4 linked regions of the Homo sapiens genome follow. The protein of the gene in region 3 purifies or fractionates together with the protein of the main gene of each other region. This does not show direct contact. Each region holds a gene or a part of one and is shown on either strand. Other genes may lie near its edges.

Evidence for each region. The genes of interacting proteins can lie anywhere in the genome.
Region 1: the proteins of RLN2 (region 3) and PCYOX1L purify together in Homo sapiens (affinity purification with mass spectrometry; one large-scale study listed by BioGRID and IntAct). This does not show direct contact.
Region 2: the proteins of RLN2 (region 3) and COL12A1 purify together in Homo sapiens (affinity purification with mass spectrometry; one large-scale study listed by BioGRID and IntAct). This does not show direct contact.
Region 4: the proteins of RLN2 (region 3) and TENM3 purify together in Homo sapiens (affinity purification with mass spectrometry; one large-scale study listed by BioGRID and IntAct). This does not show direct contact.

Annotation. Positions count from the first base shown.
Region 1 is NC_000005.10:149,364,546-149,368,045, forward strand, and holds part of PCYOX1L (prenylcysteine oxidase 1-like isoform 1 precursor), read left to right. Parts: intron 1-1,396; coding exon 1,397-1,608; intron 1,609-2,814; coding exon 2,815-2,955; intron 2,956-3,447; coding exon 3,448-3,500. UniProt on the Homo sapiens protein: Likely to have oxidoreductase activity. Required in the mevalonate pathway to regulate prenylation and enhances the bactericidal activity of neutrophils.
Region 2 is NC_000006.12:75,182,054-75,185,553, reverse strand, and holds part of COL12A1 (collagen alpha-1(XII) chain long), read left to right. Parts: intron 1-1,409; coding exon 1,410-1,700; intron 1,701-1,901; coding exon 1,902-2,504; intron 2,505-3,500. UniProt on the Homo sapiens protein: Type XII collagen interacts with type I collagen-containing fibrils, the COL1 domain could be associated with the surface of the fibrils, and the COL2 and NC3 domains may be localized in the perifibrillar matrix.
Region 3 is NC_000009.12:5,301,917-5,305,972, reverse strand, and holds the start of RLN2 (prorelaxin H2 isoform 1 preproprotein), read left to right. Parts: upstream 1-1,256; 5' UTR 1,257-1,392; coding exon 1,393-1,603; intron 1,604-1,707; exon of another isoform or gene 1,708-1,776; coding exon of another isoform or gene 1,777-1,877; intron 1,878-4,056.
Region 4 is NC_000004.12:182,249,902-182,253,401, reverse strand, and holds part of TENM3 (teneurin-3), read right to left. Parts: intron 1-3,500.

The DNA of each region.
Region 1 (3,500 bases), on a different chromosome or scaffold from region 3:
CCCTCTGAAGGAGGCAGCCAGCCCTCCACCGCAGCCATCTGCAGCCAGCCGTGTACAATGCCCACCTCATGTGGCTAGATCTACTCACTTTTCAGAAGAAGCTGGAAATCCAGAGTCGTGTGTGAAATCTTTTCAGTTTTTCAACATTTGCAACCAATTCATCTTGTAAGCCAAATGAAACACTTCTGCAGGGCAGATGCAGCCTGTGGACCACTCATTTGCAAACTTTGTTGTCCTCATTTTTCCATCTAGAATAAACACCTTTCTTCACCACTCCTCCTATCCCTGGGCTCCAGCCCCCTCCCCATCACCTTTGGTCCCAGATGTGGAGGGCAAGTGGTCTGTTCCCTCCCTGTTCACCAAGCTGTCACTCCACCTTTCCCCAAAGTCCCTCCTGAAGGTGCTCCCTGCTTCCAGCCTAAGGCGCAGGGGCTGCTCCCCGGACCCCATCACTGTCTGCCTCCCTTCAGTGTCACTCAAGTGTGGCCTGTGCCCTCCTGCCCTGGTTCCTGGCACTTCTCCACTCCCTTCCCATTCTATAACTCTGCTGTTTATAGCACTTCTTCCTTATATTCTCCAGATGTCACCCAAAGCTTATTTCCTTACCTCTCTTTCTGATATTTTTCTCCCTTATCAATTATATCCAGACCAATAATGTTGACTTCTACGTTTTATGGGAAATGACTTCTCCCTCTCAGCCCTAGTTTCCTCTTCACTTCCAGACCCACATTTCAACTTTCTGGACACCTCCATCTCGTGTCCTATTGATAACCAAACTCAACATGTTTACAAAAGAAGCCCTAGAATGGGCAACATTTCAAAGGCCAGCCAGTCAGGAAATCCATCGATGGTTCCAATCCATGCTAGTGAGATTGCATGAGTGATAGAGCGACAGGACATGAGCCTGGGGGTGAGTGGGAGCCCTGTCAGATGAAGCGAGAGGAGAGGACAGGCTGGACTGGCAGAGAAGGTGACAGTATCAGCATGAAGTTGCAGTGTGTCATCAGGTCCTAGAAGCTGTGGCAGAACCGACACTGTTGGAGAAGGAGATGTGTCAGCAGGGGTGGGCCGTAGCCCCAGCTGGGTGAAGAAAGGGTTATGAACTATGACCTCAGGCAGGGAGTGGCTCAGAGCAGTGATACAGTTGTTACTCAGCACAGCCGTGATGTGAAGCCAGGCCTAGAAGGATTCCATACCTTCACACTCCCTTTAGGTGGGACAGGCCCGCCACAGTCAGAGAACAGGTGCCAGGGAACATGACCAGCCTCTTCTGCCACCACTCCATGTAGAGGAAGTGATGGGTTCCTGGTGGGCCTCCCAGGCACTATAACCCAGGGGCAGGTGGTCAGGCAAAAAGCCTTCCTGCACAAGGACTCCAGCTCTATGTGTCTTCTAGGATCTATAAGTACCAGGCCCACGGCTATGCCTTCTCGGGTGTGGAGGAGCTGCTCTACTCACTGGGGGAGTCCACCTTTGTTAACATGACCCAGCACTCTGTGGCTGAGTCCCTGCTGCAGGTGGGCGTCACGCAGCGCTTTATTGATGATGTCGTTTCTGCTGTCCTGCGGGCCAGCTATGGCCAGTCAGCAGCGATGCCCGCCTTTGCAGGTAAGCGTCCAACCCTTGGCCTGCCCACCTGCCCCTCCTCCACCCAAGGTGCTCAGAATGGGCTGGGGGTCCCCATAATAACCTCACTTTTATCCAGCTCATTGCAGTCACATAGGCACTCTGCTGCCCCATCCTGCCTGATTCTGGGACTGGCCATGAGTTGGCAGGAGATAGTATCACCCCACTTCACAGACAGTGAAAGCAAGGCTCAGATCACAGGTCCAGTGTGTTTCTACCACTCCCAATTGCTTCATAATCCCTTGCATGTGTGTAAATGTTAGAGCTGAGATAATGCTCTGCTCTCTACACTTTGGTTTCAAGAACTGCCCTGTTGAGGCCTTTGAGCCACTGTGAGAGCACCTCCTCTTCCCAGCTCTTCACGGGAGTGGCTGGGCCTGTGTGTAGCTCACTGTCTGCTAGCACAGACCACAGGAGTGGAGAATGTAGGCTTCACAAGAGCAGGAATCCTTGTCTATTGTTCCCTGATACATTGCAAACACAGAACAGTGCCTAAGTCATACTAGGCACTGGGTATATTTTTGTTAAATAAATGAATGCAAAGGTTTACAATAACAAGCACCTCCCTCGTACCCTCGATACTGTTCATCTGGCTCTGCACATGCTGGCTCCTTCGCAGCCTTCAGGCCCTGCCTCAGTGTCCCCTCAGTGTTCCTTGCTCACTCTTTCAGTATCTTGTGTGTCTCCTTCATAGCATTTTTGTGTAGAGATATATAGAATTCACATACCATATAATTCGCCCATTTAAATTGCACAATTCAGTGGTTTTTAGCACATTCGGAGTTCTAAAACCATCACCACAATCAATTTTAGGACATTTTTATCACCCCAGAAAGAAACCCCCTTGCCCTTTAGCCCTCACCTCCCCAACACCCCCCGGCCTCCCAGCCCTGGGCAGCTACAGATCTGCTTTCTGTTTCTGTGGATTTGCCTAGTCTGGGCATTCTGCATAAATAGACCTCACAATATGTGGTCTCTGGGAGCTGGCTCTTTCGTTGAGCACAGTGTCTTCCCCCCATAGCATTGTGCACTTTGTTGTACTTACTTGTATGTTTGCCATCTCCCCATGCCCATGGTTGGGAGAGTTTTGCTCTGGCAGGGAGGCCCAGTCGAATAGTACTGGACTCCCCAGCCCTCCTGCCCCACGGCCCTGACAACCTATCAGCACCCACTTCCCGCTTTGCCCAGGAGCCATGTCACTAGCCGGGGCCCAAGGCAGCCTGTGGTCTGTGGAAGGAGGCAATAAGCTGGTTTGTTCCGGTTTGCTGAAGCTCACCAAGGCCAATGTGATCCATGCCACAGTGACCTCTGTGACCCTGCACAGCACAGGTGAGTAGACAGGGCGGGAGTGGGCAGGCATGCCATTCCCAGCCAGTGGACAGACACTTCTGCCTCCTTTGTACCTCAGCCCTGGTCTGTGATCCCCCTGGGGAGTATTTCCGAAAAAGCATTGAGAAGCCCCAACCCTGCCAGGTGACACTAGAGGGTGCTGTTTCCCCAATTCAGATGTCAGCCAGAAAGCTGAGACTTCCATCGACCCAGCCTTTTTCTGTTGACCGATGAGGACTTTGAATGACATCCTTGCCCACGCTCCCCCAACTGGCCAGCGGCGGAAGCAGAGCAGAAACTGAGTCTCCTGACTCCATGCCCCTTGCTTCTTCTGCAGCCGCATCAGCATGGAGAGGCCAGGACCCACCATTTAGACAGCCCTGCTGCACCCTGAGCACCAGGGTCTCGTTGTACCTCAATGCTGGACCCCAGTAGGGAGTTCAGTGGGTAGAAGCCAAGGGAAAGTTGACTTTTGTGCTCTTTTCTTTCCAGAGGGGAAAGCCCTGTACCAGGTGGCGTATGAGAATGAGGTAGGCAACAGCTCT
Region 2 (3,500 bases), on a different chromosome or scaffold from region 3:
GATTGCTTTTGGCAGTATGGCCATTTTAATGATATTGATTCTTTCTATCTATGAGCATGAAATGTTTTTCCATTGTCATCTCTGATTTCTTTGAGCAGTGGTTTGTAGTTCTCCTTGTAGAGATCTTTCACCTAACTAGTTAGCTGTATTCCTAGGTATTTTATTCTATTATTCACAACTCCCATTGTGAATGGGATTTCGTTCCTGATTTAGCTCTCAGCTTGACTGTTGTTGTGTATAGGAATGCTGGCAATTTTTGCACATTGATTTTATATCCTGAGACTTTGCTAAAGTTGTTTATCAGCTTAAGAAGCTTTTGGGCTGAGACATTGCAGTTTTCTAGAGGGATTATGTCATCTGCAAACAGGGATAGTTTGACTTCCTTTCTTCATATTTGGATGCTTTTTATTCCTTTTTCTTGCTTGATTGCTCTGGCCAGAACTTCCAATACTATGTTGAATAGGAGTGGTGAGAGAGGGCAACCTCATCTTGTGCTGGTTTTCAAGTGAAATGCTTCCAGCTTTTGCCTATTCAGTATAAACATCACTTTTATGTCCTACATCTGGTTGCTTTTTTGAGGAGGCGATGTGTAAATTTGGGCCTGTTTTTACACACACTTCCTGCAGGTTGATTTGTGAAAAATTATAACTATATCTTCCGGGAAGTTGATTCCATTGACAAATCCAGAATTTTGATATTGTCTGAAATATCTTAAAATACTTTACGTTAACTGTCAAATACATGACTATGTTCTATGTTGAGTAAGGATCACCATTTTTTAGAGGACTGATATGCATGCGTTAATATGCATGTTATAAGCCATTGTTTCCCCTCTGTTTGGTGGCACTGTGAACATAGTTGAACTTTTTTTCTTACCCTGAAACTAGTGAAAATAAAATTGTTTAAAATTATAAGAACCTGTCATTTAAGAAGTACTAAATGCTTTCTCTTTCTTGGCATATTATAAAGTATCTTTTAAAGATTACACTTTTATGATGTTATTAAGAGAGAAAAATTCCCTAAAGAATTGAATGAAGCATTGATTTAACAAATATTTATCAAGTGCCTACTTTGGTGCTTGAGAATGAAGACAATGAGTGAATACCAAAACCAGAATGGAAATCTTGGTTTCAGAGAAGAATTAGGCATGAAGTGTCCCAACATTAATTTCTTCCAAATACTTTCTTATTCCATTAACTTCTCAGCAATTTGACTAAAAGCCAAGTGTTGAACCACTTTTGGTTTGATAGGGACATGTGAAATTGGGGACTGAGGCGGGTATTGGGCAACTCTTTTCAATGTATTTAGGATGAATTTGAATAAGGAGATTTGAAGGTCCAAACCTAAAGACCAAATTAGTAAGGTTACATCTCACTGTTATTAATCACTGTCTGCTTGTAACTTTTTAGTTGTTGAGCCTCCTTCAAATTTGATTGCCATGGAAGTCTCTTCAAAATATGTTAAGCTAAATTGGAATCCATCTCCTAGTCCAGTGACTGGCTACAAAGTCATCCTCACACCAATGACTGCAGGAAGCCGACAGCACGCTCTGAGTGTGGGGCCTCAGACAACCACGCTCAGTGTTCGCGACCTCTCAGCAGACACAGAATACCAGATCAGTGTTTCCGCCATGAAGGGAATGACATCCAGTGAACCCATTTCAATAATGGAGAAGACTCAGCCAATGAAAGTTCAAGTGGGTAAGTCAATGTGTGCATCATTGTATTTGGAATATGTGAAGATCTGTTTGACAGAATGCCTTACTTGTTTGGACTTAGTTTTGAATGAAATATTTGCAATAGTTTTTTTTTTAAAGAAGCACGCTTACTAAGAAAGCTAGATATGTATATTTTAATGATTAATATGTATTGAAGTTTAATGTACTTTTTTTCTCTTTACAGAATGCTCACGTGGTGTGGATATAAAAGCCGATATTGTGTTTTTGGTTGATGGCTCCTATAGCATTGGGATTGCAAACTTTGTTAAAGTTAGAGCCTTTTTGGAAGTTCTTGTAAAAAGTTTTGAAATTTCACCAAATAGGGTCCAGATTAGTCTTGTGCAATACAGCCGGGATCCTCATACTGAGTTCACTTTGAAAAAATTCACCAAAGTTGAAGATATAATTGAAGCAATAAACACCTTCCCTTACAGAGGAGGATCTACAAATACTGGCAAAGCAATGACTTATGTCAGAGAGAAAATATTTGTGCCTAGCAAGGGATCAAGAAGCAATGTGCCAAAGGTCATGATTCTTATCACGGATGGGAAATCATCAGATGCTTTCAGAGATCCTGCGATAAAACTGAGGAATTCAGATGTTGAAATCTTTGCAGTTGGTGTGAAGGATGCCGTTCGCTCAGAATTGGAAGCTATTGCCTCTCCTCCTGCAGAGACCCATGTGTTCACAGTGGAAGATTTTGATGCTTTTCAGAGGATATCTTTTGAACTCACACAGTCTATCTGCCTTAGAATTGAGCAAGAATTGGCAGCTATAAAGAAGAAAGGTTAGTAGACTTTGAGAGTAAAAGTTATTTCTTCATGAACAAAGAATTTTTGGTTCTAAAATTGTGGATAATATGCTTGTTCAATTCTTCTTATAGACACGAAAAAGTAACTTTCCTATGTTATTGAAAACTATTGAACTTAGTTTTCTTAGCTCTGAGATATGACTTTCTCCTGGATATGGATCATATTTTAGTTGGTGAAAAAGCTGTTTAGTTACAAGAGTCATGAGATGTTTCTGTTCCTAGATTGTCAAGCAGGTTTAGGAACAAGTTTTATCATATGTATGTGTCATTTACAATCCAAATCCCATGTATGGGGTGTTCACTATGTGCTGGATACTGAGCTGGGTCCTTCAACTCAAAGGTGAAGAGAATATAGTCTTGCACCTTTGGATTCTTTTTATGCATTTCCTTTCCTGAATCATTTTGGGCATCATTTGTCACATCTGGAATTTTCCTCATTTGTCTGATCTACTTTTCAATGTGTAGTTAAAAGTCCCATCCCTTGAGTTTGTGTCCTTTTCAGGGACATGGATGAAGCTGGAAACCATCATTCTCAGCAAACTAACACAAGAACAGAAAACCAAACACTGCATGTTCTCACTCATATGTGGGAGTTGAATAATGAGAACACATGGACACAGGGGTGGCGGCATCACACACCGGGACCTATAGGAAGGTGGGGGGGCTGGGGGAGGGATGGCATTAGGAAAAATACCTAATGTAGATGACGAGTTGATGGATGCAGCAAACCACCATGGCACATGTACACCTATGTAACAAAACTGCACGTTCTGCACATGTACCCCAGAACTCAAAGTATTATAATAATAAAAAGTCCCATCCTTTTCATTAAGCCTTCCTAAACTGTAACTGTCCTAGCACTATCATGCTATCACTTTCACTCAGTTGGCTTTCCTATGTACTGTTTTTTTTTCTTTTTTTTTTTTTTTTGAGACAGGGTCTCACTCTGTCACCCAGGCTGGAGTGCAGTGG
Region 3 (4,056 bases):
GCCTCTCTCAAACTGCGTGTTTTAATGAAAACTCATTTAAAAGCATTGATTGCATCTGACCATCTCATAGTCTTGGTCAGGTATTTTTTGAAGAATTACACATTGCTTGGCATTTGACCAATGCTAAGTGGGCCTACTGACATCACCAGCAATCTAGAAATTAGAATTATTTGATTCCATAGTTATGTTTGTAACTAAGAGATTGTTATTCTTTTATTTCAAAGCTACCCTAATGTCCTGCATGTCTCCAGTTTATCTGATGGAGCTGAACTAATCTGAGTATATTATGAACACAAGCAAGTAAGTTATTTTAAAAAATGAACCTACTTGTACTAAAAATTTACAGGTAGAAGGGTTGTCTACTAACCATATTACCTAGAACAGTGTGGATCTTTAGAAAGTTAAATTAAATGATGGTAAAAAATCACCTCTTACCAGGTGCAGCAAACACAAAATACAGTAAACAAACAAACATATCTTTGTGCTGTAATTTGTTACCAAAATATTCTTTGTGGGATTGTGGGATTTCCACTGCTTTTTTTTCTTCTCTCTCTCTCTCTCTCTCTCTCTGTGTGTGTGTGTGTGTGTGTGTGTGTGTGTGTGTGTGTGTGTGGTATGTTCTCCAGTCTCCAGAGATGTAGATTAGAATTTTAAATTAAAATGTTCAGATAACTAGTTACAATCAAATTTATCCCCAAGAGTGGAAGGAAAGTGCAATGGAGAAATTGTTTTGTAAATTAAAGACATTACTGCACAAGCCTAACATGATGTTACTGGGGATTTTAATGTTTTTACCTGCATTCAGATTAAAAGTCATCAGTTTTCCCTGTCATCAACAATTTATTTATTCATCCATTCTATTTTTATATTTTTATGGATTGATATACCCAACACTATACTAATTAACCCAATTTACAAGATAATCTATAATCTTATTTAGGTTAGAAGGGTTTTTTGGCAAATGTTCACTCTAGAAAACTGAGTTGTAAGAATATGGGTGATCTCAAATTTGTTTCTGTGTGTGTAAAAGGAAAGGCTTCATATCTAAAATGACTTTACCTCAGTATACTAAATTGTTTGAGGGTAATGAATGAGAAGAACACAACTGTAAAAGGGCCAAGGACAGAGGGATGGGCAAATGAAGGAAAGGCAGAGAGGGAGACCAAGAGCTGAGGGGGAAAATTCTGTGGAGGGGTGTGGGAAAGGGGTGGAGCTGGCACCCTTGCCTTAAAAGCTGAGTGATAGCCCAAGGGATACAAAAGACCGCTTGAGCCGGGTAGGGAAAGCAGCCTAAAGCCCGGGACAGGCACACAGGCCCAGGTGTGTAGGCCACAGCAGCTGCAGTCCTGAAAGGCTGCAACGTCCCGACCTCCAGGAGAGACCAGGCCCAGGATGCCTCGCCTGTTTTTTTTCCACCTGCTAGGAGTCTGTTTACTACTGAACCAATTTTCCAGAGCAGTCGCGGACTCATGGATGGAGGAAGTTATTAAATTATGCGGCCGCGAATTAGTTCGCGCGCAGATTGCCATTTGCGGCATGAGCACCTGGAGCAAAAGGTCTCTGAGCCAGGAAGATGCTCCTCAGACACCTAGACCAGTGGCAGGTGAGAGCTCCCGCCCCCTCCCGGCCTTCCCGCGCTTCCCATTGGTTACTCTGGGGCGGCCGCCCAATTGGAACGGCGGCCTGCACGTCCGACTCGAGATCTCATTGGCTGCCACCGCTCAGCCCCTACTCAGCCGTGGCTGGTCCCTAAAGTTTGGGCTTTTCCTTTGCCAGGTGATTTTATTCAAACAGTCTCACTGGGAATCTCACCGGACGGAGGGAAAGCACTGAGAACAGGAAGCTGCTTCACCCGAGAGTTCCTTGGTGCCCTTTCCGTAAGGCAGTCAGAGCGACGGGGTGGAAAGGGAGGGGAAGCCTCAGAGGAGGTGACGCCGCCCGGAGACCCGCAGGAGGCCGGGCGCACTCCTGCACCCCACAGGAAAGCCAGGCGGCCAGACAGCGGGCGTGCTGGTGGGGGCACCTGAACAGGGCTTCTCGGATAGAGAGGAGAGGGGACAAACACTGAGGCGGCGCGCTAGTTATCAAGCCTGTTTGCGCGCCTGTAGGACGGGGCAACACTCTGAGGTCTCTGTGAGGGTCCCGTGATGGGAAGACAGGAAGGGCCTTACACTTAATGACTCTCCTAGTCCAGAAGTTGGGCTGTGGCCTTTGCCATTGGAAACGTTCTTTAAAATAAACAAACAGAAAATCCCAAAGGAAAGAGTCTGACCTCCCGCTTCTTTGATCTGGGTATTGAAGTTCATTTGTGAGGCAGGGGATGGAAGAGAAAGGAAAGGCTTGAATGCCTTTAGGAGAAACTCAAGAGGACCAGAGACAAGGAAAGCAGGCCGTTCAGACCATCATAGCTGAAGACCCTACTGATGCTTTCAAGCATTTGGAAGCTGCAGTGGGTTTGCTTTAAAGGCAAGCTCTTAGAGTTGAGTACAGCTCAATCTGAAATGGCTTTTAAAAATATTTTAGTATTTATAAAGTAGCAGTGGAAACTCATGGAGGTATATACTAGTCTAAGAAGTGTAACGGGTCATATTAAATTCAGAGAAAGTAACCGCAGTTGCAAATACTAAGTGTTTTGTATTAGTATGACATGTAATTTATGATAAACCGCAACTAAATTTTATAGGCTATATGCATATACTATATATAAATGACTCTAACAGAAATACATTTACTTCTCTTTTATGAGATTTAAAGTATGCTTCTAAAGTTATTTACTTTTCTACATTGTTAGAGTTTGATTTATTTAATGGCAGTTTTTACATGACTTTTGTATAACATTAGTACAAAAATACCACAACGTCTAGGAATTTAGTGATAAAAAGTAGAGAAGACCGGATTGCATTGCATTTGCTTTATTATTCCACATTTTCTGACTATAAAAGTAGTAATGCTCATATTAAAGACAAATGTACATTAATGCAGCGTGAAAAATGAGAAGCACTCGTAGATATTAAGGACTTTGAAAAGTATATGTGAATTTTATGAGAAAATGAAATTATATTAAACAAGTAAGTGGAAAGAAATGTTAACATTTGGATAGGTATATGTATATATCTTTTGCATTTTCACTCACCATTATACTTTGAGCAGTTTCTCACATTGTTATTATCCCAAAACACAATTTGAAATTCCTGTGTAGTATTTTTTGTCATAAATCTGCCACATACACTTAAGGATTCTTTGGTGGATATTTAGTTTATTTCTAAATTGTTGCTGAAAATACTTCATTAAGCACATTTGTATATAGATATGGCTACATTTTTATTTCCTTTGAAGAGACATGAGATTACAAAGTATTTTTAAAGAATTTTCTTTATTGATGTGCAGTATAATTTAACTGAAAGTAACCTCAGAAAATATTGCCTGCAGGTGGAGATTAAGACAAATGTTTACCATTACTAGGTAGGAATCGTTTTGGAAGTACATGTCAGTAATTTGTGATTAATTTGAGTTTTCAGACTTCTACTGTTAGGTAGTTGCTATTTGCTTCCACATTATTACATTGTTAGCCATCCATTTCATCCTACAATATGTGCTAAAATCATATTCACTGCATCCCTTTTAAAAATAAGATACCCTTTAAACCAGAAGAGGCCTATTTTAGTGAGATTTACATCCAAAATAATAAGTGAATAAGGGTATTTGTATGAATTCAGACAGAATATTTTCTTTGAGCCTAGGTTCCATAGCTAAAGGTGTTATGGATTATGAAATATTTCAAAACAGGTTTAAAAATATAATTTTAATAAAAGTATAAAATACACAGCCTATGAACAAACCTAATACAAACTATAACTGTTTTGGCTGACTCATTTAACTGGCTTTAAGTATATAGAAAATTACCATCAGCTTCTTTCAGTATTTAATAAGGCCCCAACTACAGAAAGTTTAGGTTGGATCAAAGAGAGGTTTTTATGATGAAATTGAATTAAACTTAGGATGTCTTACTGAGGGGAAATGCCAAAACCTCTCATTTAACCAAAAACGATATAAATT
Region 4 (3,500 bases), on a different chromosome or scaffold from region 3:
TCCTGGGTGCAAGTGATTCTCCTGCTTCAGCCTCCCAAGTAGCTGGGATTACAGGCACGTGCCACTACACCCGGATAACTCTTTGTATTTTTAGTAGAGATATGGTTTCACCATGTTGGCCAGGCTGGTCTCAAACTCCTGACCTCAGGTGACCCACCCACCTCGGCCTCCCAAAGTGCTAGAATTACAGGTGTGAGCCACCACACCCGGCCTCTTGGTATAATTCTTACTGGGGATGATGGAGCAACATGAAGCCAGTGTTTCTGGATGTTCACAGACTTGTGTTAAACCCTAAAGTAAAATGTGACACAAGAGAGATAAAGCCTCTATTGTTTAAAACAAACAAATAAAAAAATCATTTTCTTTCTCCTTTCAGAGGTAGTTTCGTGTCTGCCGGCAGAGTTCATGGGAAAATATAGCCAAGGCCTTTGATACAGAGAGGCCTGGGTCCAGATCCTTGCTCTACAAATTCTGTGACTTTGGGCCGATTCTTCACCTACATGAAGCTGGGTTTCTTTGTCTGCCGAACTAAGAGCAACTACTGCTCCAAATTGAAAGGACTGTTGTGACTGTTGCAATGTGATTAAATGAGACACACGGTGAAGCTCCTGGCACTTAACGGACACTGAATAAATGCCGATTTGCTTCCTTTTATTAGCCAGGTGTCATTTTATGTATAAAATTTCTCAGCTAAAGTACTGAGCCCAAAGGTATCCCAGAGCCTTTTTATAATAATTATGCCATTTAAATATGCAGGTAAATTCTGTGAGTAGGATAAGCCTCTACGTAACAGTGATCTGGAAAAAAATAACAATAGGAGGGACTCTGAAGGTCTATGAAGAAAGTCTGAGTGGAAAAAATCTTATTTAAAAGTCAGTTGCTCAATAAATTGTAAGTCAGTAGTTATGTTTATTGCATTCTTTATTTTAATATTCATGTATTTTAAGTATGCTGATTTGCCAACTGCACACTAAATCACATCGTTATTTAAATTTTTTTCCCTTTCAAATCTCCATGAAAGCAATTTCTACTCTCACAGCAGCATACAACTGATGGAGAGATTTTAGAGGTCTTAAAAGCTTTGCACTCCATATTTGTTTGACTCATAAGGAGCATAATGAAAGAAAGTCGTGTGTATACTTAAATAATTAAGAGCAATTGACTGGTCTGGACGTGTGACATTCTCAGCAACCACATTTTTTTGTTGTTTTTTTTTTTTGAGATGGAGTCTCACTCTGTTGCCGAGGCTGGAGTGCAGTGGCGTAATCTTGACTCACTGCAACCTCCACCTCTTGGGTTCAAGCAATTCTCCTGGCTCAGCCTCCCGAGTAGCTGGGACTACAGGCATGTACCACCACACCCAGCAAGTTTTTGTATTTTTCGTAGAGATGGGGTTTCACCATGTTGGCCAGGCTGGTCTCCAACTCCTGACCTCAGGTGATCTGCCCACCTCAGCCTCCCAAAGTGCTGGGGTAACGGGCATGAGCCACAGCACCTGCCAGCAATCTCATTTAATTCAAATGCAGGTATTCAAAGTAACATATTGAAATGAATAAAGTAACCCACTGTAATGGATAGATCTCATTTACAGTCACCAAGAATTTTATGTTCTGTGCATGTTTTAACCCAAAGTTGGAGAGAGCATCTTTACTTGTAAGATACACAGTGTCAGCATGTATCATGAAACTTAAACAGATTTCTCCCATTTAAGAAGACAGCACTTACACCTCGAGGAGGGAATAGAATTCTAGTGATTACTAAACAATCGACCATCTCATTTTATATCTTAAGTTCAGAGTTGTAAAAGGGTGACTCTATACTGGGAAAGAAGGCCCACCTAGTATGAAAAAGCATAGCCGTAATTTAATTTTCTCCCACACTTTTCCATTTTAACAGTAAAAGACAACTTCCCATCATCGCTTTTGTTTTGTTTTGAGACAGGGTCTCGCTGTGTCACCCAGGCTGGAGTTCAGTGGTGTGATCATGGCTCACCGCAACCTGGACCACCTGGGCTCGAGTGATCCTCCCACTTCAGTCCCCCACGTAGCCAGGACTACGGGCACATGCCACAATGCCTGGATAATTTTTTATTTTTGTAGAGACAGGGTCTCGCTATGTTGCCCAGGCTGGTCTGGAACTCGTGGCCTCACCCAATCCTCCTGCTTCTGCCTCCCAAAGTGCTGGAATTACAGGCATGAGCCACTGTGCCCAGCCCCCATGATGACTTTCTAAGTGGAAAGGTTTTTTTCAGTTCCCAAAATTGATAACCTGGAAATCCAGACCTCAAAATGCAGTCCTTTAATTAAGGCCCCGAACCCTTCAAATGAAGATGTCTTTGGGACTCTGGAACACTGAGAGGCTCTGCTGATTGGTGGGAAAGGCTCTTGTCTCTGGGCAAATCTCTCACTGTTTAGAGCCTTTAGATAGTTAAGAAAATCAAATGTGAACAAACCCTTGTTTGCATAACAAATTCTTATCCATCTGAAATGCCGCACCATTAAATAAGCTTCCAGCTGGAATCAGGTGACAGTTGGTGCGGGAGACCTTATCAATTCACCATTGCATGTTTAATATTCTATGCACTACGTGAGAATTTCTACAGTGTGAATGTTTTTAGTCAACAGAAATATAAAAATGCTTATTTTTAAAATATTAAATCTTCATTAACCTGGAAAAATGCGGTTAGCCAGAATGACTAATTTCCTGGAGGTTATAGATAGTTTAGGTTTTTCTCTACTAGCTGGAAATCATTCACACGTAAGAATTCTTTGGCTTTACAAAAAAGTCACTGATCTGTCCAAACATGAACCAAATTCGTTAGCGATTTCCCTCCAACATGTAGTACACTGAAGTGGGAAATCTGGGGTTTGGCAAAGGAAAACCTACATTCAAAATCTCACTCTATCCTTTACGAGTTGTGTTACCTTAGGTAAGTTACTTAACTTTTCTGTTTCTCTTTCTATTCCATTTCCTCATCTGCCAAATAAGGATAATAAGGCCAAGTGGTGCATTAAAACAAAAGATGTAACAGTTGAAAAATAACTAGAACAGGCCAGGCGCAGTGGCTCACACCTGTAATCCCAGCACTTTGGGAGGCTAAGGCGGGTGGATCATGAGGTCAGGAGATCGAGACCATCCTGGCTAACACAGTGAAACCCCGTCTCTACTAAAAATACAAAAAAGTAGCCGGGCGTGGTGGCGGGCGCCTGTGGTCCCAGCTACTCGGGAGGCTGAGGCAGGAGAATGGCGTGAACCCAGGAGGCAGAGCTTGCAGTGAGCCCAGATCGCACCACTGCACTCCAGTCTGGGCGACAGAGCAAGACTCCGTCTCAAAAAAAAAAAAAAAAGAAAAAAGAAAAGAAAAAGAAAAATGACCAGAACAGTGCAGACCACATAGTTGTTTGCAATCAAATCATTTTTAACAGCTGACTAAGCCTAGACAACATAGCGAGACTCCATCTCTTAAAAAAAAGTAGCCAGGCATAGTGGTGCATACTTGT